2 separate regions of the Homo sapiens genome follow, and region 1 is linked to region 2. The links come from fine-mapping of genetic effects on gene expression. A gene starts in region 2. The other region holds a variant in brackets. All regions are shown on one strand. Distances are from middle to middle.

The links.
Region 1: its variant is fine-mapped to the expression of ACSL6-AS1 in hippocampus (GTEx, PIP 0.98).

What each region holds. Positions count from the first base shown.
Region 1 is chr5:132,222,416-132,233,997 of GRCh38, reverse strand. It overlaps P4HA2 (prolyl 4-hydroxylase subunit alpha 2), which reads left to right and starts at 6,145. Exons shown (of 15, transcript NM_001017974.2): 1 at 6,145-6,208. RefSeq lists silencers at 5,799-6,028, 6,169-6,428. The variant C/G (reference allele first, on the strand shown) is at 6,120.
Region 2 is chr5:131,998,671-132,010,252 of GRCh38, reverse strand. It overlaps ACSL6-AS1 (ACSL6 antisense RNA 1), which reads right to left and starts at 6,680. Exons shown (of 2, transcript NR_183256.1): 1 at 6,442-6,680; 2 at 3,217-3,933. The region is part of intron 1 of ACSL6 (acyl-CoA synthetase long chain family member 6); the gene reads left to right. RefSeq lists a silencer at 2,164-2,283 and an enhancer at 7,904-8,499.

The DNA.
Region 1 (11,582 bases), 220 kb before region 2:
TGGGGAAACACCAGGTTCTTCCTTCGGGGTGGGGATGGCAGGCAGACAAGTCCAGACTGCTTCAAGGAGCCATTGGCCAGGGATATTGCCTAGGGACAGCATGGAGGTAGAGCCTCATTTGGCAATGCCCTGGCCATGCTGGGGTGAAAGGTCATAGGCCATGCCTGATCTTGAGCCTAGGAAGGGTCTCTAAGACTGGGTCTAGGTAGGCAGTACCTCCTACTAGTAGCCTTTCCCAGCTGGAAAGGCTTGGGCTTTTCCCTCCCTAGACAAAGTTGCTGGGCGGGCCTCTGCTTATCTACTAGTTTTTATACTAGACAGAGCCCCTTTGATATGTGTGGTCCCTGAATCCCCCGCCTTGACCTCAACTGGTGATCAGCAAATGTTTGTTGAGTGAACACATAAATGAACACCATAGAGCTGTTCCAGAAGGGAGGTATGGCCTTGTTCATACAATGGATTTGGGGAGAAGGGATGTGAATCTCTATAACATGCTGTGATGTGTGGCTGTTAAAGATGGTTGTGGATTCATTAAGTGACACACACTGGGTGTACTCAATGAGGTCTGCTAGAGGCCACAATAGTGGGAATGTCCACTCATTCATTCATGTATTTTTGTTCACCAATTCCTCTCTAGGCTCTGGGCGCCAGACCCTATGCTAGAGCTGGAGACACAGTGATGAACAGGTTAGAGGCAGTCCCCAGGAGGGCCAAATGGTAAATGAAGTAGACATTGAATGAGGTCAGGTAGCATGTGTGAAACTCATCCATGAGGAGCTTTGGGGCCTATGGCAGGATCTGGCTCAGGCTAGACCCAGAAAGCCTTTTGAAAGAAACCACCTTTTGGGAAGAGAATGTTCTAGGCAGGAGGAATAACACATTCAAAGGCCAGGGAACTGAAAAGTGCCTGGAGTGGCTGCAGCATCAAGTTTGAGGCTGTGCATAAGAAGAGAGACCATCAGGGCTGGATAAAAGGGATTGGCAGCATTGGCAAGATTTGTGTCTACCCTTGGGTCCATGGAATACCTTTGAGAGGTTCTATACGGAAATAACATGATGGGAATCACATGGTTACAATGTCACTCTGCCCTGTGTAATGGAGTAAGGATAGAGGGAGCGGAGTAGAAAAGTGGGCTAAGATGGATTGTCCAAGTGAGAGATGGTGGTGTCCTGAATTTGGTCTGCGACAGCAGGGTTGGGAAGAAGTAAGTGAACTGAGAGAGATCCACCAGGTAAGATCTCCAGGGTGGGCATGCAGTGGGAAAGAAAAGGGAAGTGACTGGGAGATGGTGATATTTGCTGAGATGTAGGAAATGCTGGGGCAGAAGCAGTTTGGGTGGTGTGGGCTGTGGTATGGGGGAGATGTTTCATCCTGGCTGAACCTGCAGCTGGAGATGCCCCAAAAGCAGTGGCAGGGGGGTCCCCATACGGGACTACCCCAAACCATCCTGAAATGGTTGGGATTCCAAAGAAAGTAGCACTAAATGCCAGGGTGATCAGTCCAAAGCATTTATTAGGGAAATTTCTCGGTCTCTGAGGGGGCTGCAGTACATCCTGTAGGCAGACAGCGAGACAGGGATGTTCTATCTAGGTATGCCTGCTGCAAGGGGGGTCTGGGTATGGAATTTATATGAGATTTTAAGGAATTTGGCTCAGGGTCGGGGCTAGTTTCTTTCAGTGTTTCGGGCGACCATCTAAACACCTTTATCAGTGCCTGGGAATGTTTAAGGCCCCAGCTTGGGCTCAAGCCTACAGGAAAAAACCTTCGGCTGTCTGGGTCATAGAGTGGTCAAGGCATTTGGTATTTGTCAGGAGAGAGAAAAAAGTGAGGGAACCTGGGGGACCCTACATGAGACAATGAGTTCACTTATCAAGTGGTCATAAAGAAAAGGCTGTGACGATGTGGGTCTGGAGTGGACCCAGGCTGGAGATTCAAAACTGAGTGATAGATTTACATGGGTCCAGAAGCCTTTGAGGGCATGGAGGAATGTCAAATGTAGTGGATTAAATGGTGCCCCCCAACCCCACCAAATTGCATTCATGTCCTACTACCTGGATCCTGTGAATGTGACCTTATTTGGAAAAATGGACCTTACAGATATTATTAAGTTACAGGTTATTAAGGGAGCTGTTGCAGTGGTTCCAGGGCCTGCAAGAGTCATCAGCATTCAGGGAGGCTTCAGTGCCAAACCTCCCTGGATTACCTGGGTAGACCTCCCAATCTGCCCTGGATTACCTGGGTAGACGCTACAGCCAATGACAGTTATTTTTATAAGAAACAGAAGGGCAGAAGATGCAGACACCGAGGAGAAGTGCAGGTGAAGATGGGGCAGAGATTCGTGTGATACAGCCACAAGCCAAGGAACTCCTAAGCCACCAGGAGCTGGAAGAGGCAAGGAGGGGTTCGCCCCTAGAGCCTTCAGAGGGAGCACACCCCGGTAACATTTTGATTTTGGACTTCTGGCCTCCAGAACTGTGAGAGAATAAAATTCTGTTGACTTAAGGCACCTAGTTCGTGGTAATTTGTTGTGGCAACCCCAGGAAATGAATAGATCAGGAGCCCAGATGGAGTCTGAGGGCCTTATGTTAAGGGCTGAGTGGTGAAAGTGAGGCTACAAAGGCAGAGGTCAGAAATGGTATCTTCTGGGTGGAGGCAGGTAGAGGAAAAGGAATATAAAAACAAATGAATGGCCACTTCCTGCAAGGCAGGAAGACCAAGGAGACATGATCCTCAGAAGTCCTGCCCCTTCTCAAGGCTGCAGATTTTTTAGGAGGATATCTGACCAATGCTGTGGTCCTGAGCTGCCAGGACTCCAAGACCCTGCGGAGGTCTTACTCATGCCTTTGGAGACTAAATCTTACAGTGTGGAGCAAGGTATTGAGGAGATATCCGTCCATTCAAGGAGTTAGCAAATATTGAGCCCAGTTCGGTGGTGGGAAAATGGCAATGGACAAATGCATGCATGGTTTATGTACTCCCAGACCTCCCAGGCCAGTCGGGGAAGACGTTACCCAAGCGATCATTCAATTCTATCAACGGTGGCAAGTGTTACGAAGCACACGGGGACATGAGAAGCTGTTATGGGAGGTTTTGTGTGTGTGGTTTTTTTTTTTTTTTTTTTGAGACAGTCTTGCTCTTGTCACCCAGGCTGGAGTGCAATGGCACGATCTTGGCTTACGGCAACCTCTGCCTCCTGGGTTCAAGTGATTCTCCCACCTCAGCCTCCCTAGTAGCTGGGATTACAGACACCGCCATCATGCGTGGCTCACTGCAAGCTCTGCCTCCCGGGTTCATGCGATTCTCCTGCCTCAGCCTCCTGAATAGCTGGGACTACAGGCATGCGCCATCACACCCGGCTAATTTTTTGTATTTTTAGTAGAGACGGGGTTTCATCATGTTAGCCAGGATGGTCTTGATCTCCTGAACTCGTGATCCACCCGCCTCGGCCTCCCAAAATGCTGGGATTACAGGCGTGAGCCACCGTGCCTGGCCATGCCCAGCTAATTTTTGTATTGTTGTAGAGACGGGGTTTCACCATGTCGGCCATGCTGGTCTCGAACTCCTGACCTCAGGTGATCCGTCCGCCTCAGCCTTCCAAAGTGCTGGGATTACAGGCATGAGCCACCGTGCCTGGTCTGTTATGGGAGGTTTTGACCTACTCAGGGAAGTAAGGAAAATCTCTCTGCCTCTGAGGGAATCTGAAGGATTCTGAAGGTTTTAATCAGGGAGGGAAAAATTTTTTCTAGACAGAAGGAACAGCATGTATAAAGGTCTGGGGTGGGGAGGGGGAATGGCCAGTTAGAGAGACTGGAGGAAGTTCGATGTGGTTACAGAAGTGAGCAGAGGCCAAACCATGTGGAACCTTATAAACCACTTTTTGATGTTTCTCAAGATCAGGGCAATTTCCCAGCTGCAAGTAATGGGCTCAGATCTGCATTTTGAGATCATCATGGTTGTAGTGAAGGAGAGATGAGAGGGAACAAAAATGGAGGAGCAGCCAGTCAGGAAAGTGTTGCCATCACTCATGTGAAAAAGATGGAGAGAAGTGGGTGGATTAGAGGGAGATTTAGGGGTAAAATTGAACAGACTTGGGATATAGGTAAATAGGGTCTGGGGATGAGGGAGAGGGAGCTGCCAAGTATGACTCCCAGGCTTCTGGTTAGGTAACTGATGGGAAGTATCTCCTTCAGTACAGCAGTGAAGACAGGATGTGTGGAGGGGGAAGATGTAGGGGGAGAACAATAACTCTGTGTTGGACATGTTGCCATTGAGGTGCCTGTGGACACTCAAGTGGGGATGTACACTGAACAGTGAGTTACATGAATCTGGGGTTCAGCAGTAAGGATAAGGGTAAAGAGAGAAATTTGTGTCACCTGCGTGTAAAGAGAAGCGTGAAGTGGAAAGCCTAGACCTGAGTTTTGAGGAACCCCCAACCTTTACTAATAGGGAGAGGATGCTGAAGAAGCTTGAGCAGAGGTGGCCAGAAAGGATGAGGGGAAACCAAGGGAAATCAGTGTTCCAGAGGGGCTGTGGTCATCGCTGGGTGTCAGACACTGCTCAGGGCCCTGGCAGATGAGGTCTGAAGAACAGCCGTTGAAATTGGAGATTGGAGGCTACAGTTTATTGAGACCTGGTTTGGTGCTGTTAGGGAGCTAGAAGGCTGACTGCAGGGCCTGAAGAGTGGGAGAGACAGCTCCTTTAGGGCCTGAAGAGTGGGAGAGATGTGAGGATGGGGAGACAGCTCTTTCAAGAAATTCCGCTGCGGTTGAGAACAGAGACACTCAGTGGGGTCGAATGAGGGTTTTGTTCCCATAGTAGAGGCTTGAACACATTTACAGGCCAATGGGAAAGATCCAGTTGAGAGCGGGTAGTTGAGCCTTCAGGAGAGAAAAGGGATGTTCCATGGGGCAAACTCCTGAGAAGGGGGAGGAGATGGAAGGAAGCTTCTGTGGATGTAGCAGATGCAGGAGGGTTTGTGTAGTTTTAGCCGGGCTCGAGCCGGTGGCTGACGCAGGCAGGAACAATGGCTCACCCATGTTTTATGTGTATTTCCGTGTGCGTGCTCCTGCTTTCCCCAGGTCTGGGCCGCCTGCCTGGCCCGTGTGCCGTAGGGAATATCCACACTGGGCCTGGGCGGAGGCTGGGCATCTCCCGCTCTGGGCTTGCTCCCTGATGAGATTCTCAGACCGTGCTTCCCCTCATTCATGAGAGGAAGGTTCACAGAGCAGGCGTGGGAACCTGCCTGGCCGCCAGGGCCTCCTCCCGCTCAGGCTGAGGTTTGCTGCATCTCTGTCCTTATTCCCTTCCAGACTGGATTGGCTGAACCAGGTGTCCACTCTTTTTGGCCCATGGCATAAAGAAGGGTTTGGGCAACCCAGTGTGCCCCAGGTTGTTACCGCCCCCCCGCCTCCGCCCCCACCCAGCCTTTGATGGGCCCCCTTCTCATCAATCCATCACCCCTGCACATGCCACCAGGACTGCCTGGACCAGAGCCCGGGACTCTCTGAAACCCACTGAGAGCTCGGCCCTGGGAATGGGCCTCCCAATCTCGGTCTCCAGGGGGTGGGCCCCAGGTCCCTAGTCTTCCTCAGGGTCTTCTCCACTGTTCTGCCTCCTCTCCTGATACCCAGTTCCTAGCCGGGGTGACCCCAGCCTCCCGTAACAGCCTCCTTGTGGTGGTGCTGGGAAGAAGGGGCCCGTGTACCCGGCAGGGCCCCCCAGGCAATGGGCATGAGCGCAGGCAGGGAAATCCGTCAGCCTCCAGGGACGCTCTCCCTACAGCCCCGGCGAGGGGATCGGGTCGTGGCGACCTCTCCAGACGCCCAGGGGCTGGGCAGGAGGGCGGGCCAAGGCCCGCAGGTGGGGGCGCCAAAGCCAGGCGGGCGCGGAGTACGTGCGGTGGGCTGCGGGCGGCATGAAGGGCGCGGGCGGCCAGCTCCGGCTCCGGCTCCGGCTCCGGCTCCCGCGAGGCCGGGTAGCCTGGGCGTTCCCAGGGGTCGCAGAGGACGGCGAACCCCGGCGGAGCCACCGGAGCTGGGGACCAGGACGCAGGCAGGCGTGTGGAGCGTGAGGTGGGGACGTGGCGGCGGCTCAAGTGGGCGGAGCCCCGGCAGCGGCC[C/G]GAGGCGGAGTCGCCAAGGGAGGAGGCGCCGAGCTGACCGGGCGACGCCGCGGGAGGTTCTGGAAACGCCGGGAGCTGCGAGTGTCCAGGTGAGCGCCCCGCCCGCTCAGCCGCCAGATCAACCTTAGCGCTGGGGCGCGGGCTGGGGTCGCCAGGCGGTGCGTTCTGCCCGCGCGGGGCTGAGAGTTAGGGGCCGGGGCCGGATCCGGGGCCGGGGGTCGCGCCGCTAGCCGCCAGCAGCGCAGTCCGGGCCGCCACCCTGCACCCTCCGCCCTGTTTCTGCACCCGTCTGGGTTCTTGTGCCGCCGCCCGCAAGCCTTCCCGAGCTCAGGGTGGTGAGGTCAGCGGCGCCCTTCGTGCAGTTCCCTCGGCTGTCGGGCGGGGCTGGGAACTTGGCCGCTCTTCCCTGTCAGGCTCCCGGGAAGTGGCGGCCTGACCCCGGGCTGCCGGCTGTTGGGAGCGGGGGCGCGGCGTCCGCCTGGCCCTGAGGGGCCTCTTCATATTGGCTAAGCCCGTTCTGCACCCTCCCAAGGGCTGGGAGTCCTAGGTCTTGTCCGGGCAGGGTCCAGCTTGGAGCCCATTAGATGGGCCATTGGATCAGAAAGTCTTTTCTCCCCCAGACATCCTTGTGGAACCAGCGTTGTTTTTCCTTGGCAGCTGCGGAGACCCGTGATAATTCGTTAACTAATTCAACAAACGGGACCCTTCTGTGTGCCAGAAACCGCAAGCAGTTGCTAACCCAGTGGGACAGGCGGATTGGAAGAGCGGGAAGGTCCTGGCCCAGAGCAGTGTGGTGAGCGCTGTGCTGGAAGGGAATGCGGGCAGTGGGTACTTGGTAGAGCACTGACTGCCTCCGGCCAGAGGACTTCCCGGAGGAGGTGACCCATGAGCTGGAGTGGTCAGAGGAAGGCTGGCAAAAGGGCATCGTGGACAGAGGAACAGCCTATGTGAGTGGGAGCAGAGACCTTGGCCAATGCCATTCCTTATGGCCTTGTAGTGGAAGCAAGGTGATGGGGAAGGAACACTGTAGGGGATAGCTGTCCACGGACGCTGTCTACAAGACCCTGGAGTGAGATAACGTGCCTGGTACTGTGCCCTGCATGTGTAAGATGCCCAGTTGACCTTCGCAGCAGGAGCCTGGATCAGGGCACTTCCTGCCTCAGGTATTGCTGGACAGCCCAGGTGGGTCCCTGGCCTTTGTATTCTATTTGACTTTAAGATGGTGCAGGAGAATACAAAAAACTATCCGGGCATGGTGGCGCGCGCCTGTAGTCCCAGCTACTCGGGAGGCTAAGGCAGGAGAATCGCTTGAACCTGGGAGGCAGAGGTTGCAGTGAGCCAAGATCGTGCCACTGCACTCCAGCCTGGGAGACAGAGCGAGACTCCATCTTAAAAAAAAAATAAAAAAGAGAGATGGTGCAGGAGAGCATTGGGATCCCTCCCAAGACTGTGACTGTTGTCTTTTGCTGTAGAGTGACACCCGAGATTTGTGCTTCTTGATAATAGACTACCTGGGGCCTCACAGCCCCAGCCCTCTTGTAGGAAATCCTGTCCTAGGAGCAAGGGCTGGAGTCCGTTACGTTGTAGCTTGGGGCATTCTTAAATGTCCCAGACTTTGTGGAGATCCATTGTCCACCTAAGAATTTATAGGATGTTTTTGGGGTCTGCTGCTTGTTCTCAGCCTGTGTCTCATCTGACATTAGGTTCCATAATTTAGTCTCTGTTAAATGAACTAGGATTTCCTTTGGCTTGTACTTAAACTGCCCCTGAGGTGTCCAAGGTGCAGCCTCTCACTGTGGTTCTGGGCCTCAGCGCCCAGTCTCTCTGGTTGCTTCTCCCCACTCACAGAATGTTTGGTCTTTGAATTCTTTTCTTTTAGGGCCTCCTTGTTCTTACACAGCCGAGTGTCCACTGTGTGGCCCAGCCAATGAAGCCACGTAGCAAGGATGGAGTGAGTTGGCTGGGGGCCTCATCCCAAAGATGCTGTCATACTGGATCACCCTAGTTCTCTGAGAGCTCAGCAGGCAGACTTGGTGACAGCTTAGCTGAGGCATTGTCTGTGGCATGTGATAGGCCCTTGTATCCTGTCGAAAGCTCTGCATTGGGGTACTCTAGACAGTGCTTACTTAGTCACCGGTTTAGACTGGCCCCAGCTGATCTCAGTTCATCCCTTGAGTGCCTTCTGCCTGTTTGGCTTCTGACTGGAGCGTGCCTGGGGCTAGAATGAGGGACGAGAGAGAGGAGGTGGCCGAGGCACTATTCTTGCCTGTGGGTAGCTCGTACTCTGAGATTGCTGCTTCATATTGGCAGCTGGCCATGTGCCAGGGGAGGAGCCCGGCTGTGAGTGCTCATCAAAGGAAGAGACTACGTGGGTGCAGCTCTGAGGAATGAGTCGGTTGAGGGAATCTAGGGTCTCCTCATTTCCTAAGAAGGCCTCCCTTTTTCACTCTGCCCTCCCACATCCTTGGGAGGGTCTGAGACTGGAAGCAAGGCCTTGGCTGATGTGTGGCCACGCTGGCTGATAGTGTGCAGAGGGCTAGGAGGTGTGTCCCTGGCTCCTGGGGTCTGTCAAGAGTTTACTATTATGCAGATGGAAGTTGGCAGGAAAAGCTGTGATGCAAGTACATGCAAGCCCAGCAGAGTGCTGGAGTGAGAGTTAAACTTCGGGAAAGTTGCTCACATCTAGCAATTTGGACATTTGAAGTTCCTTAGGGTAAGACATCAGCCTGTCCTAGAGCAAAGAGGGCTGGAAGGTCCTGTGGTCTGTGGGCTTTGTGTTACGGACATGGAATGAGAGATAGAAAGACAGTTTTTTTTTTTTTTTTTTTTCCTCAGAGCAGAGGAGAATGAAAAGTCTGGATGATTTACTGGAGCCCTAGAAGAGAGTTCTTGTTCAGCTGGTGTCATTGCAGGGCAGAGGATTAAGTGTTTGGGTAGAGTGCTCTCCAGCTCAGATGGAATCTATCTGAGCCTGGTAACAGGCCAGCATCTGCTCTGGACCTTTCAGGAAGTGCTTGCTTAGAGTGTGGCCTGTTTTGTACCTGGCACTCTGAGGGCCAGGGTGTAGTGGAGATCCTCAGGCCTGGGTACTTGTAGGAGCCTGGAATGAGCAGGTCAGAGGCATATAAGTACATGAGTTCCTAGAGTATTGGTCCAATCCCCCGCCTTTTGCTAGAGAACATTGCTTGATGAGCTTTAGAGCCAGTGATTGACCAGTTCCAGGGTTATCCCCTGATGATCAATGTACTACATTATACCTGATTCCAGTCTCTCCTGAATTAAATGTTTCATTTCTTGTGGTGCTCCTGGAACATGGAGATCGCCCAATTTCTGCCTTGTTTGCATCTTCACTGTTCCCTAGTCTGGACCTTCTTTCTCACCCAGGAATCAGCTGACTTGGGCTGGGCAGCTGGCTGCCTCAGGTCCACTGATGTTTCTCTGGTGCCCTTGGTACTAATGATTGACATAAATTATGCCTAGTGCAGGGCTACCTGCCAACATCTGTCATCACATTCAGTCCTCCAACAGCCCTATGAGATATAGGTCCTAGTATTGTCTCTATTATATACATGGGGAAACTGAGGAATCCTATAACTTGTCCAAGGTCACAAAGCCGGGAAGTGGTATAGAATTGGGGTTTAACTCTTAGTATGTCTGACCCTAGGGCAGGTGTGCCTGTCCATTTGACTGTACTGCCTTGCCCTGAGCTGGACTGGCTGGTTATTTGTGAGTGCTGTCATGTCTAAGGTAGGAGTGACTGCCCATCTGAACTTAAGGGACCATGTTGCTGTTTTCTGGGTCCATGTTGCGTTCCTCCCTCTGGTGAGATCCAGCCAGGCGTGTCATGGACCTGCTTTATGAACCTTTGGTGTAACCCATGATAAAGTCCTTAACCTGGGCAGGCATGTTCTTCCTGGGCAAAGTGTGGCTTCCCTGTTTGGGAGTCCATTGCACTTTAAGGTAACAGATTATTGAGTAGGACTGGATAGCTGCAATATCTAGCAGAGTGTGTTTTGGGTTTGACTCTTGGTTCTGTCATTGATTTGCTGTCAGATGTCAGATATGTAGGAAACCTTCTCTCAGCCTCAGCTGTTTGTCATTTGTATCTATCTTATATCTGAAATGGAGGTAGTTATCTAGCTTAGAAGGTTTGGGTGAGAATTAGATAGTAGAAATGAAAGATTTTTGGAAACAAATAGTGCTTATCTCAGACTATGTTCCCAGGAAACAGCCTGAGACAGAGCTTAAGTACTTAATGCTTTATTGGAAGGTGTAATTGCAGGGCAGCCAGGGTGAGGGAAAACAAAAGTGAGGTGCAGGCCTGTGCGATGGCTCATGCCTATAATCCCAGCACTTTGGGAGGTCGAGATGGATGGATTGCCTGAGGTCAGGAGTTTAAGACCAGCTGGCCAATATGGTGAAACCCCATCTCTACTAAAAATACAAAAATTAGCTGGGCATGGTGGCACACACCTGTAGTCCAAGCTACTCAGGAGGCTGAGGCAGGAGAATCCCTTGAACCTGGGAAGTGGAGGTTGCATTGAGCCAATATTGTGCCACTGCACTCCAGCCTGGGCGACAGAGCGAGACTGTCTCAAAAAAACAAAAGAAAAAAGTGAGGTATAAAGGAGGATGGGAGGTGGTGTTTTAGCAAGCTGGCTACTCTGCACAGAGATGTACTTGGTTACCCTATGAGGGCCCTTTGGTAGCCACTGGGGAGGCCAGTCTGGTACTTCAACAGAGTCTGGAGATAGTGAGAGGAGCCAGAGATTCTGGCGTGGGCCTGGATAGTCTCCTCCACTGGGCTGAGGCAAAGTAAATACCCTGGGACCTGGGAGATGGGTGAGACCAAGAGGTTGCAAGGTGGGACGTAAGATGCATCCAATATAGTGGTATATGGATTTTATCCTCAAGTGTAGTTCCCTTTTGTGGGTTAGTCTCATCCAGACTGCCAAGTCTCTGCCAAGACTATGACTGAAAACCCAACTTGGCTTTTGCATGTCAGTTTTAACAGCCTTCTCTGCTACTTCATTGTCTAGTTACTGAAGCAAGACTTTGTGGTGGTGATGGTACCCAGGTGGGGAAGTGGAAGTCAACCACTATTCATGTACCAGACTGAGAAAGTATGTGGATAGATACAGATAAACATCTTGGCTTTATTAGGTTCTTCGTGAAGGAGAATATTTTTTCACATAAAGTAGTTGTTGAAGATACGAAACCTGGCATGGTGAGATGAGGCTAGAGAGGGCAGTAGGGCCTGGTCACACACTCAAAAGGACCCTTTGGGCTAAAGAGTTTGAACTTTATCTTGACGGCAGTAGAGAGCCAAAGGAGGGCTTTGATAAACCATGCTGGCTACTTTGTAGAGCAGAGGTGGGAGGAAGGCCAGATGACATGTGGAGAGGCCAGTGTAGTGGGGGCCAGGATGCCTGTAGGGGAAGTTAGGGGTGGCTCAGATCAGGG
Region 2 (11,582 bases):
CCATTTCCTTAAGTTAGGCCACAGGGACACTTCCCCTGAGCTGGGAGAGTGAGTGAAGCCTCCCTAATCCCCTCAGCTCCCTAAGCTCCTTCTGTCTGCCAGTGTCTGTGACTGGCTGTGCAGGGGCACTCTGGTCCTGAGGCACATCCAGCAGACAAGGGCAGGGCTAGAGCTGGGGTTGGAGGTAAAGGGCAAGGATAATTAAAATAATGGTGATGGTGGTCGTAACAGCCACCATTTAATGCCTGAGTGATGGATGGTCTCAGAGCCTCTCCCCACTGCCAGGACCCCTTTGCCCTACCCTCAGGAGGCCCCACCCAACCATGGGTCCAAGGTCAGCTCTCTGAAGACTTGATCTTCTGTGGCTGCAGGGAGGTGTCTAGGGGCTGCAAGACCACTTGTGACCGGGGTCATCAGCAGCCTGTGAGAAAAAGTCCCTCACCCTGTGGGGTCCTTGTCTGTGAGCAGGGTTAGCTGGCACTGACTCAAAGTGGAGTCCTGTTTCCTTGTGGAGCATTTCCTAAAGTGGTCAGCTCCCTCCTCTAATGGGAAACTGGGGAATCTGCCTCACTGAGAGACTATACAGGGCCTCAGAACCGTCAAGCAGGAGCGATTCTTGGGGCAGGTAGTGGCTGCTTCCACAGAGGCCGAGCTTCCCAATGCAAAAAGCAAGAGGCTGAGGCTGGTCTATGGTGCTTATTGGATAGAATAACCCAGACAATTGCTGGGGCATTTTAAGTTATGTATCCACCCTCCTTGAGACTCCACCTGGCCCCCAGCCTTTCTCTGGTGGCAGAAGAGACTCCTGAGTTAAGAGCTGTAGTTCTGTGAGCACACCTGAGAACATGCTCTGCCTTGTCATCTCCAGGGTCCCATGGTCCCACGGCAGCTGCCAGATCCCTTCCACTCAGCCAGTAACAGGAGGCAATGTCTCTCTTTAGTAGAGTTATGTGCTTTTTGCCACCTAACCTGGCCCTAGGGAGACAAGGTAGGGCCAGGCAAGGGTTTCCCTCAAGGGCCCTCAGGGAGAGATGACATAAAGTCGGGGATGGGGGTGTGGCAATGCACCAGGAGGAGGAGCTGACTGTTGTTTGTGGGAGGTAGCCATCTGTTCTGGGCTGTGTCTGTCCTGTTGCCTGCTGGAGAGGCCAGCAATGAGTCCTGGGCCAGCCCAGATCTCACCTGTGTGTTGAATACTAAACAAGGAGACAAGTAAAATAAGTCCAGCATGAGTCAGATGCTAGGTCTGGCTTGGGGAAGCATGCCCTCAGTGCCATAAACACCTAGAGGACAATGGGAGCAGAGGATCAGAGCTTCTGCCTGCCTGTACAGCACCTTTGTGCAAAGTAGGAAGAAGTCTCACTCTTGGTGGATAACTTTCTAAAAGGGCACACCTTCCTCTAGGCTAAGGCAGCCCCATGCCGCAGGGTCTAATCTGTTCAATCATATACCCAACCATCAGTGACATATGAGTGGGCTTCTGCAGCATTCAGGGGAATTTGTCAGAGATAGGGAGGCCAAGATCCAAGTGGAGGAAGCCAGACTAGCAGAGTTTGTGGAAGAACTGCAATGGGGGATGAGTCTTCAAGGTCTTGTGCCTGAGCAATGTGGGTTGTGGGAGAGGATTCTGGAGAAGGTTTTATTTGGATGGTAGAGGATCCCTCCATTTAGCTGCTGAGTCAAGAGGAAGAGAGTGGAGTCCAGGAGGGTAGTAGGAGGTCGTTATGATGTTATGGATAAGAATAGATGTGGTCCAAGGATGGCTTGAGTCATGGCTGGGCTCCAGTAAGGAGAAGAGATAAGCCCCCACCCCTGGCCTCTGCCTTAGGAGAAGTGGGGCTGGCCCTGGTGGGGCGAGACAAAGTTGCCCGTCTAAAGAATGGTTTGGCATGCTCCTGGCTATAGATGCCTAGGGCAAGCATAGACTTGCACACTTTGGCTTAGTTCAGGCCTGTGAGATCCTCCCCTTACCCCACTCTGGGCTCCCATTAGGACAGAGAACTGACTTGAGGTCTAGGGCCACCCCAGGGGTTTGGAGATTGCAGTTATGAATTGGGACAGATGGTAGAGCTCCAGGCAGAACAGGTGGCTCTGTGGCCAGCTGGGGACATGCCTCACAAAGAAAGCCTGAATTTGTACAAGGTGCACCAGCATGGAGCAGGATTTTGCCCGCAGCACCTTCTCACAGCTCTCCAGCCTATATGGTAAGAACATACTGACACCAGGGGGCAGCAGAACCCAGTCATTATGCTCTCCAGCTATTGTTCTGTCCCTTGTGGTTATAAGGATTCATGGGTTGACCTTCAGAAGGCTGAATTTGGCTCAGCTACAGCCCCAGATGGGACTCAGGACTGTCCCATACATGGGGTGAGTGATCATGAGGCTCTGGCTTGTTTATAAAAATGGGCAAAAGTTACAGGCTTTTGTATAACAGAAGCTACACTGTGTATCCAGCCAGCACTGGGCACATAGTAGGCACTCAAATACTCATTAAGTACTAGGTGTGTGTGGAGGGGTGTTTTTATGGGATTAACTATTGCAAACAGGCTGACTTGGCTGTTGTTTCACTGAGCACCTACCATGTGTCAAGCACCCTGTCTATGATTCTCCAAACTTTCCTTCCATCCTCCCACAACACTGTGTTGTGTTCTCCCCATTGCCTAGGTGAGGCCCTGAGACTCAGCGAGGTTCAGTGGTGAAGCAACTTGTAAGAGCTGTGAGTCAGGCCACATTCTCAGACTTTCAGTCCAGGAAGGGACCACCAGGCATGATCAGCCAGCCATGTTAGCTAAAATTATAATAACTTGTATTAGGCTTTCCTTAAAGGGGATCCAGGATTCTGACATGCAGAAAGGGAGTAGGAAAAGAAAAGGCATTCCAGGCCAAGGGACCTGTGTGAGGGAAGATTGGCAATAGGACTGAATGAAGTTGAAGGACCAATTCTGCTGGGCCAGTGAGGTTGCCAGAGGTGGGCTCTGCAGGCCTAGGATAACAGGCCAAACAGCATTGGCTTTATTCTGTGCAGCGGTTATGTCAAGGAGGTGTGGGTAGAACTGGGCATGTGGATGACCAAGGTGACACTATTCCTGTGCTCCAGAAGCCTCCTCCACAAGTCCATGGTCTCCTTGAGGGCAGGGCCAGGTGTCTCATGTCTATGTCCCCAACCCAGAGTTGGGCACACAGGGTACATAAGAGTTTATTGCATAAACTAAAGAATTCCCTGAGCGTAATTTATTTTAATAATGTGTTTTATAAGCTGTTTCCTTACCACAAGTCAATCAGTAAACAACAGATTTTGAGTGTGCTCCTGCTAGGATGCTAGGCTCTGTGCCCAGGTGGGGGATGATGCCAATATGTTAGAAGCAGTAGGGAAAAGCAGGTGTAAACTCCTTGCAGGCAGGGCCAGGTTACCCTTCACTGGAGAACCCTGTGTGCTGAGAACCAGTGCAGCCTGGAATAGAAGGAGGTGCTCCAGAAGTGTTTGTTGAATGAATGAATGAATCAACTAGTGAACCCACAGCTTCTGGGTGACCAGTTTTGTGGAAGAGAGTCTTCTCTGAGGGCTGCTGCTTCCTTAGAGCTCCAAGGTTCCAGTCACCTGACAGATTGGGAGCTTGGGCCACTCTGCCAAGCATAGATGAGAGGAATTCCCAGTCAAGGTCCTCACCTCACTGGATGGTCTGGTGTGATGCTCCCATTCCTTGCGTTGGCCTCGCCAGAGTTCCCACTAACCATCCACTGGGTCCACAGATTGGTGGGGTTAGGGGAGTGCTGTGGATGAGATGCTGCTTTGAGCCCTTGGGGTTGTCCTTCAGGATGCCCAGGGGTGGTTCCTCATCATTTGCTCGGCTGCCTCGGGAGATCCGTGGTAGGTGTGGTTATTCCTGGGCCTACTTCCTTTGTGTAGCTCCTAATTCATGTGAATCTTGGGGCCTGGGACAGGCAGAAATGGGAAGATGGGAAGTGGATTGGAACAGAAATTTCAAGCCAAGCCGAGCTATCTATTCTGAGACCCAACCAATACTCTCAGAGCCAGAAGGATTTCAAATCCCAAGAAGTCTCACCTGACCCTATTTGCCAGCTCTTCCCAGAGATACCCTTCCTCTCCCTGCACCTAAGCCAGGCATGTAGTAGGGGCGTCTGGGGGAGTTGGGAATGGCTTCTGATTTGCCATCTGCCCATTTAAGCTTGTGTTCCGAGATCACTGTCTCCTGGGAATTTAGAGCAGGAAGCCAGGCCAGTGAGGGAACAATCAGCATCTTAGTGCTCAGCCCCTGGTATAAGCAAATGTGGGCTGGCACCTGTTAGGGCCAGGAACAGACTTAGTAATTGATAGCTATTGGAGAAATGAGTGAGTAGGTAGGCCCAGGTTGACTGGGCAGCTCTGGGACAGACCCTATTGACCAGTGCCTGGGACCCCGCCTCACTCTCAGCACAGCCTGGCCCACCAGTGCAGGATGTGGATTCCAAGGGACTGATCAAGACTCAGCTCTGCTACAAAGCTCTGCTTTTCCCTCCAACTCATGGACTGTTGTAGGGGCTGAGACTCCCCCGTGGGACTCCTCCTGCCCACGCACCCCTGTCCCAGCCTTAGCTTTGCTGCAGACCATTCTAGATACTGACTGCAGATCCTGCCTCATAAACAGGCAGAAATGTCACTGGGAGAGACAGTGAGGTCAACTAGATATTGGATAGAAAGGGCAGCTAGAGGCTACACAGCAAGGACAGTTAGAGCTGGGACAGAGATCAGCAAGGTGGCATGTGAGCCGGCCAGTGAGATTGGACAGGGAGGTTGGCTGGAGTAAGGCCTTAAGGCCTTTAGGCCAGTGAGAGGAAGACAATTGTCAGTATGGAGAAAGTAGACTCAGTGGAGACCCATCCAGGCCTGCAGTGACCCCTCTGCTTTGGAAGGGAAGCTCTGGCCACTCTGCCCTGCCACTAGAGCTGATGCTGCATGAAGCCACATAGACCCCAGGACCCTGCTTAGTGGCTGGAGAACTTCAGTGTTCATCGTGACTGTGCTTTCCAGCAGATGGGCTGGATGTGATTCTCTGAGGACACCTTCAACTCACGCATTTTTTTTTCTTTTTTCTTTTTTTTGAGACAGAGCTTTGTTGTTGTTGCCCAGGCTGGAGTGCAATGGCGTGATCTTGGCTCACTGCAACCTCTGCCTCCTGGGTTCAAGTGATTCTCCTGCCTCAGCCTCCCATGTAGCTGGGATTACAGGTGCCTGCCACCACACCCGGCTAATTTTTTTGTATTTTTGGTAGAGACGGGGTTTCACCACATTGGCCAGGCTGTTCTCAAACTCCTGACCTCAGGTGATCTAGGTGATCCACCCATCTCAGCCTCCCAAAGTGCTGGGATTACAGGTGTGAGCCACCATGCCCAGCCAACTCATGCATATTCTGTAGGCCAACTCCCCTAAGCCTAGGTCTGTCTGTGGTGGCAGGGAGGGTTTAGAGAGAAATGGAGGTTGGGCCTTCCCCCATCCAGTAGGCTGGTAGGGGATTTGGGTGCATGTGTCCCCGATCTCCTTGCCACAGACCAGATATGGAAGGCTATGACCTGTGGAACCAACTTTTCTAGGTCATTCTGAAGTGTCCTGTCTCCTCTGTCTCCTGCTTCTGCTCCCTGGACAGTTCCATGACCTCTCACAGAGACATGCCTGGCACCTTGGCTTCATGAAGATACTGTGTGGCCCAAACGAATACCAGTTTCCTTTAGCCCCAGAGGCTGACAAGACATATCTCCCTTGGATTTCAGGAGATCTGTGGAGCATCCACCAACCCACCTGTTGGTTCAAAATCAACTCCAAAGTGGTTTTGTCCTAGATGTCCTCTCAGGCTCAACGGCCACATGTGTGCTTGAGATCTTGCTGTGCTATTTCTCCTGGTAGTGGGAGTCTGAGTGGCATCCATGCTCCACAGGGCACAAGGTCTGTGCTGTGGTTAATAGGCAGCTCCTGGTGACCATGGGGTGTCAGAGAAGCAGTGTTCTGGCTGCTGAAAGTCAGCCAAAAAAAAAAAAAAAGGATAGAAGCCTGACCTTGGCATGGAGCCTTGGTTGAAGAAGGAGCCCCAGCCCTGGAAGCTAGTGATCCCGCACATGGGGCTCTGGGCTGCCCTTATCCCCACCTCCCACTCGAGGGCACTTGTGGCAGCAGGAGTGTGGGCACCAGGCAGAGGACACACGTGCCCTCCATTATTGAAAGTCCTCTCTGTGCACTGCAGGGTCTTCTTGTGTACCAGCACTTTTTTCTTCCCATTTCTTTCTCCATGTTTACCATCAACACTGTGAGAATAACTGAAGTTTCCTTATCCAAAAAAAGGGTGCTACTCCAGATTCCGCCACTACTGTTTTCGAAAAGCACAAAACCAACAGAGCCTCAGAGGGGGCTGACCCTCTTTCTGGATCCCACCTCCATCCCCCCGAACTTACGTAGTGCTTTCCTCAGCAGCCACCGAGGCCTCCAGTTCCGTCTCCAAAGATGATGGGTTCCTTCCAGTGGGTGCAAAGTGAGAGCCCCAGTGATTGGTGTTCATAGTGGGTCAGTGTGAACAACGCCCAATGGCCTGCCTGGGCCAGCTGGGGCCTCGTTTTGCTTTGGTCTGAAAGACATTTTTGTTTTCTGGTGAGAACAGCCCCAGCCTGGCCAGGAGCCGGCCAGCGGCAGGAATACAAACCCTTTCATGTGACAGACCCAAGTGGAGTGATGCCCTCCTGCCAGCAGCAGGCCCTCCCCTGCCGCTCCTGGGAGGCGGCCATTTGCATATTTCCCATTCATCCTGGCCTTGAAAAGGAGGCCTGAGTTCCCAGTGCTCCTGCCCGCTGAGGGCTGGGCCGCTCCAGTCTAATGTTAACTCTGTGGACACTGTAGGCTCTCACAGGCCAACAGCAGAACTTGACCGCTTGCTGCCGGAGGGAGAGCAGCTTAAGGCTGCAGCTGCTGTGCCGCCTGACCTCCAGAGGGGGGATTCAGGAGGTGGCAGATTCCCGTTGACCAGCACAGCCTTTTGCTAAACTGGAGGAAATTCAGATTTGTTTCTTCTTGAGGCATTCAGAAGAGGAATTTTGTCAGACTATGGGGATGCCAGAATATTCAGCTATTTACCAAATTTGCCAGAAAATGTGCCCTTAACCAAGGGCAAAACTCTTTTTGTCTTGCTCACTTTCTAGTCTACAAAAAAATTCAGTGACTCTGGAATGGTAGGTGAAGGAGCCATGCCGGATCCTGGCTGCAGCAGCAATCCCTTTGCCAAGGATGTAGGAGCACAGCTTGCCTGGGGCACTTTTGCATCCCCAGGGCTGAGTGCCATTAGCTTGTGGGCTGTGACTCTGAAGGCATGAGGCAGATATACAGTACCCATCACCATCTTTTTCCTTTCTCCCATAGCTAAGTGCCATCCTGCCAGCCTCAGCTTCCTGCCCCAGTCCTCAGTGCAGACAGGCCTCTGCCTCCTTCCCGCCACTGTGTGAGGGCTCCTGCCAGGGGCCCCAACATCTTACAGGCTCTTCCTGTGACTTACCAACCCACTTCTGTCCCTCTTCGATAGCCCTGTTCTCTACCCTTTCCCACCCAGCTCGGATCCTCTCCTTGTTCTCCCTCCCTGGCTAAGGATGTCTCAGGTTCTGTCTTTTGTGCATTTCTCCCCTAGCACGTGTCCCCAGGAGACCAGCAGGGCTCCTAAGTGAACAAGCAGGCAAGCAAATCCCTCTGTTGCTCCCCCCACCTCAGTGACCCCCAACCATATATTGGCAGGACCCTCCCTACTTCAAGGAGCTTCCCTCTAGCTGGAGGAGGTCGCATCCCATCCTGCTTGTACCCCAGCCACCTGCAGTTGAGCTCTGAGTGCATGGCCTCGCCATGAGCAGCCCATATGCCCTTTACTGGTTCAAGCTTAGTTTGCAGTGTGTCCTAAGTTTGAGCCAGTGGCAGAAATGAATCATTGCTCCTGAGGCCGGGACACCAGCAGTCCTAACGTGGACATGGCCGGAAAGGCAAAGGATCGTGTTACAGCCACAGGATTTGGCTTCCTGCACAGGAGGGCCTGGCCAGGGAGTGTCCCTGTGCCTGTGAGGTGATGGTGACCCTGGTCAGTATTCCTAGGGTCCTGCCTGCTGTCCCAGGGCTTGGCGTGGAAGGATCTGAACTCGTCCACACCATCAGTCCTGGTTATCATACCCTGTAAATATTTCCAAAGGGACTACTGCTGTTTTTTTAGCCCCTGCTGTCCCTCTTTGCTCTGAGAACTTTGTCCTGCCTAATTCATGGTGAGGGCAACGTTTATCTCAGAGCGTGTGAAAGACACTGTGTATCTGTTTGCTCCTCTGTTCTCAAGGCTATTCATATTTTAAAGTTCCTGAAAGCATTGTTTGTGCCTGGCTTCCTGGTGCTAGCATCAGGAATGTGGACCCACATTCCCTGAGCAGGGCTTAGGGTGAGTGAGATTTTTGAGAGGTACTGTCATGAGGATGGGGAGGCCAGCGGGCAGTGGAGGCTGCTAAAGGGAGGCATGCTCACAGTGAGCTTGGGCTAGTTGCAACAGGTGGCTCTGTAAAGTACTCAGTCACAGCCAGCCTTAGCTGGGCCTTTCTACATTCAAGGGGCTTAATTGAACCATCAGAGCTATGATCAGGCTCCTTGGGGAAGCTTGGCAGGTGAGCCACCATGTAACCTGGCAACCCCGTATCGTATCCTGGGCCTCTATCTCATGGGGGATGTACAGTGGGTCCCACCTGGCAATTCCCAAGTCAGGGAGGCTCTTTGCTCCATTTCTGCCCTGGTCTTATGTGGTTCTGTGAATCTAATTAAAACCCAAGAGGAAAATGGAGAGCAAACCCTTCTCTCACAGCAGAGAGAAGCTTGAATCCCTGTGTGGAGAGGGCAGGTGTTGGGCAAGTGTGCGCTGCTGTGTTTGCACCTCTGCAGGTCAGGGTTGTACATGTGTGATGGTGAAGGCTGTGCATTTCTCAACCTGGCAACTGGGCTGCACACTGCTTGGGGTGAAACTACTCCCTCAGCTCTATGCCTCTGGCACTCTGTGGGATTTCCCACAGACCACTGGATTTCCTGCCCCAGAGGCTGCCTTGAGAAGCATTAAAGGAAGCTTTCATATTAAAAGCATCTCTGAAGATATTTGGAGAAAAGTAAGGGTCCTGCCTAGAAGAAAGGTGAAGTGACTTTGTGGGCTGATCGGGGGTGCTCAGATATTCGTTCATTTTAATCGGGGTGGGTTGGGGGAAGCTAGGGCCAAGTTCCAGATGAGGGTCGCTGAGGCAGGACGCTCTTCTCATGGCTCACCCAGATGGTAGGGTGAGTAGTGGAAGCTGTTATCTGCTCCAGGGAAGGTGTTGCAAGCCTGTGGGCTCTAGACTTGCCAGGCAATTGGGCAAACAGCTTTCAAGAGGGAGCTCAGAGCACTGGGTCCTGTCCTGGGACATTCTTGCAGCAAGGGAGCAGGGTTAAATTTGGGTGGACAGTGGCCCAGTGCAGGCAGACTCGTAATTGCCCAGAAGCACCTGATGTGGGTAGGGCCTGGGGGTGGTAGTAAGCTGGCTCCTGTGGCCTAGACTTGTCTTTTACTTATTAGCAGGTGCCACCATGAGTCTAGCTGTCTACCTTATGATCAGAATGAGTGTCCAATTCAAAATACGCAGTGATCATACTTGTGTGCTCAGCCACATGTTAGCCATGGAAATAGTAGTGAAAATGCTATGGAAGTAGCCACCCACACCCCTAAGCCTCACAGATCTTGCAGTAGTGAGACCCCCGAGAGCCCCTGGGACCTCAGTCTCTCAGTCTGGCAGAGGTGCTGCAGGACTTCAGAGCTCAGCTTCGGTCCTAATAGGCAAGGGTGTGGGTTCTGGCTCCAGGGTGACCATTCCCATGCAAACTAGGCAACAGTATCTCTTAGTGCAGGCATGAGAGCAGGGCTGGTGTGCTGCCCTGGGGTCTTGTGGTGGAGATCAGCCACTATCTTCCACCTGCTGGCTCTGATCCTTGGTCCAGAGTGTCCTCACTCCCCAGAGCATCCCTAAGCAGATGTTTTATCTGGAACTGTGCCATTTCTTTCCTCTTCCCAAGTAGATTGGCTGTGACCTTGTGGGGGTGGGGAGCAGAGGCAGCCCCTGGGAGAGGCTGGAGGCAGAATCTCCCGGGTAGATGGTACAGTCGCCCTCAGTGCCAGAGAGCTAGCATCCCCATCCCCTACTCCCCACTACTTCCTGTCACCCCCCACCCCCTACACACATAAACTCATGCTCACTGCAGTCCCAAGCCCACAGCAAAGGCCTGGCCCTAATCATTGTCTCAAATGGATGTGTAAGGAGACTTTGTTCTTAAGAAACCCACTTGGCAAACTCCCTTTCAGAACTGCAAACAGGGTGGGGTGAGGGGAAAAGCAGGGGGGTGTAAGCTGAGGCTCTGGCACGCTGGCAGGGTGAGGGTTAAGGCTGGGTTGCTTGGCTCTGAGCTGATCTGAGCCAGCACCGCCCTGCATGCAGATGGAGGTGGGGCTGGCGGGGGCCTTGAGGGGCCAGCAACTCCTTACAGAACTGCTGTGTGCCCTGTTCCCTGCCAGACCTGCTCCCACAGCCACCAGGGAGCCTGTGCTACCACTGCTAACGGCTCTACCACCACCCGGCTTCTCAGAGCAGGCGGCTGTTGCCATCGACTGTCCCCAGGAGGGCAGACTCGGGGCAGGGCCTTCGCCACTTTTGTGCTTTGATCAAGATGTGGTAACTTCTTTCCCTGGGCCCCACAGGCCCTATAAAGGGAGGCTGGTTCTAGTGGGACGAGCTCAGCCGCCTCCTCAGTGCCAGGAGCCTGCTGGAAAGGTAGGGTGTGAATGCATCTACTTGTGCAAGTTGTCTTTGAGCCCCTTTGGCTTGCAAAGAGATGGAGTAACTGCTTCAGCTACTTGCTATCTACTAAGTGTTTCCCTTACTACATGCCTGGCACTGCACTCTCTGTCCATGAGCTTGTTTGAGATGAGGCCCAGAGGGGCAAAGTGACCTGCCCAAGGCCACACAGCTATCAAGAGACTGAGTCATGATTTGGACCCAGGTCAGTTCAGCACCGGAATACCCAGAATACCCACTTTGGGTCCTCTCCCAAGCTCGTTTGCTAGGGTCCCTGGGCCCTGGGAGAGGTTGTAGTTTTCTTTTCAGAGCTCTTCACTTGGAGTTGAGGAGATTCTTTGATGATTTGGTGGCTGGGCTTGAGCTTCCCCACCCGTTTTGAAGACCTCAGAAGTTTGCAGAGGCCCAGAACTCCATCATATGAACCCCTATTAGAGAGGCTGATACAGAGGAAGCTGGAGTGATTCAAAGGGGAGGGAAGAATCCGAGGATCATGGAGAGCCTCAGTGTGAGCATTAGTTTGGACTCTGGTCCTAAGGCAATAGGAAGCCAGATAAGGTTTCTGAGCAGTGGCATGACATGATCCTATCTACATATCAGGAAATAACTTTGGTAACAGGGCAAGCACCTGTTAGAGCAAGGAGACCTATGGAGAGGGTGGTATGGGAGTCTGGGCTGTGGTTGGTGGTGGCTGTCAGGCCTGGGGCCGTTGGGGTAGA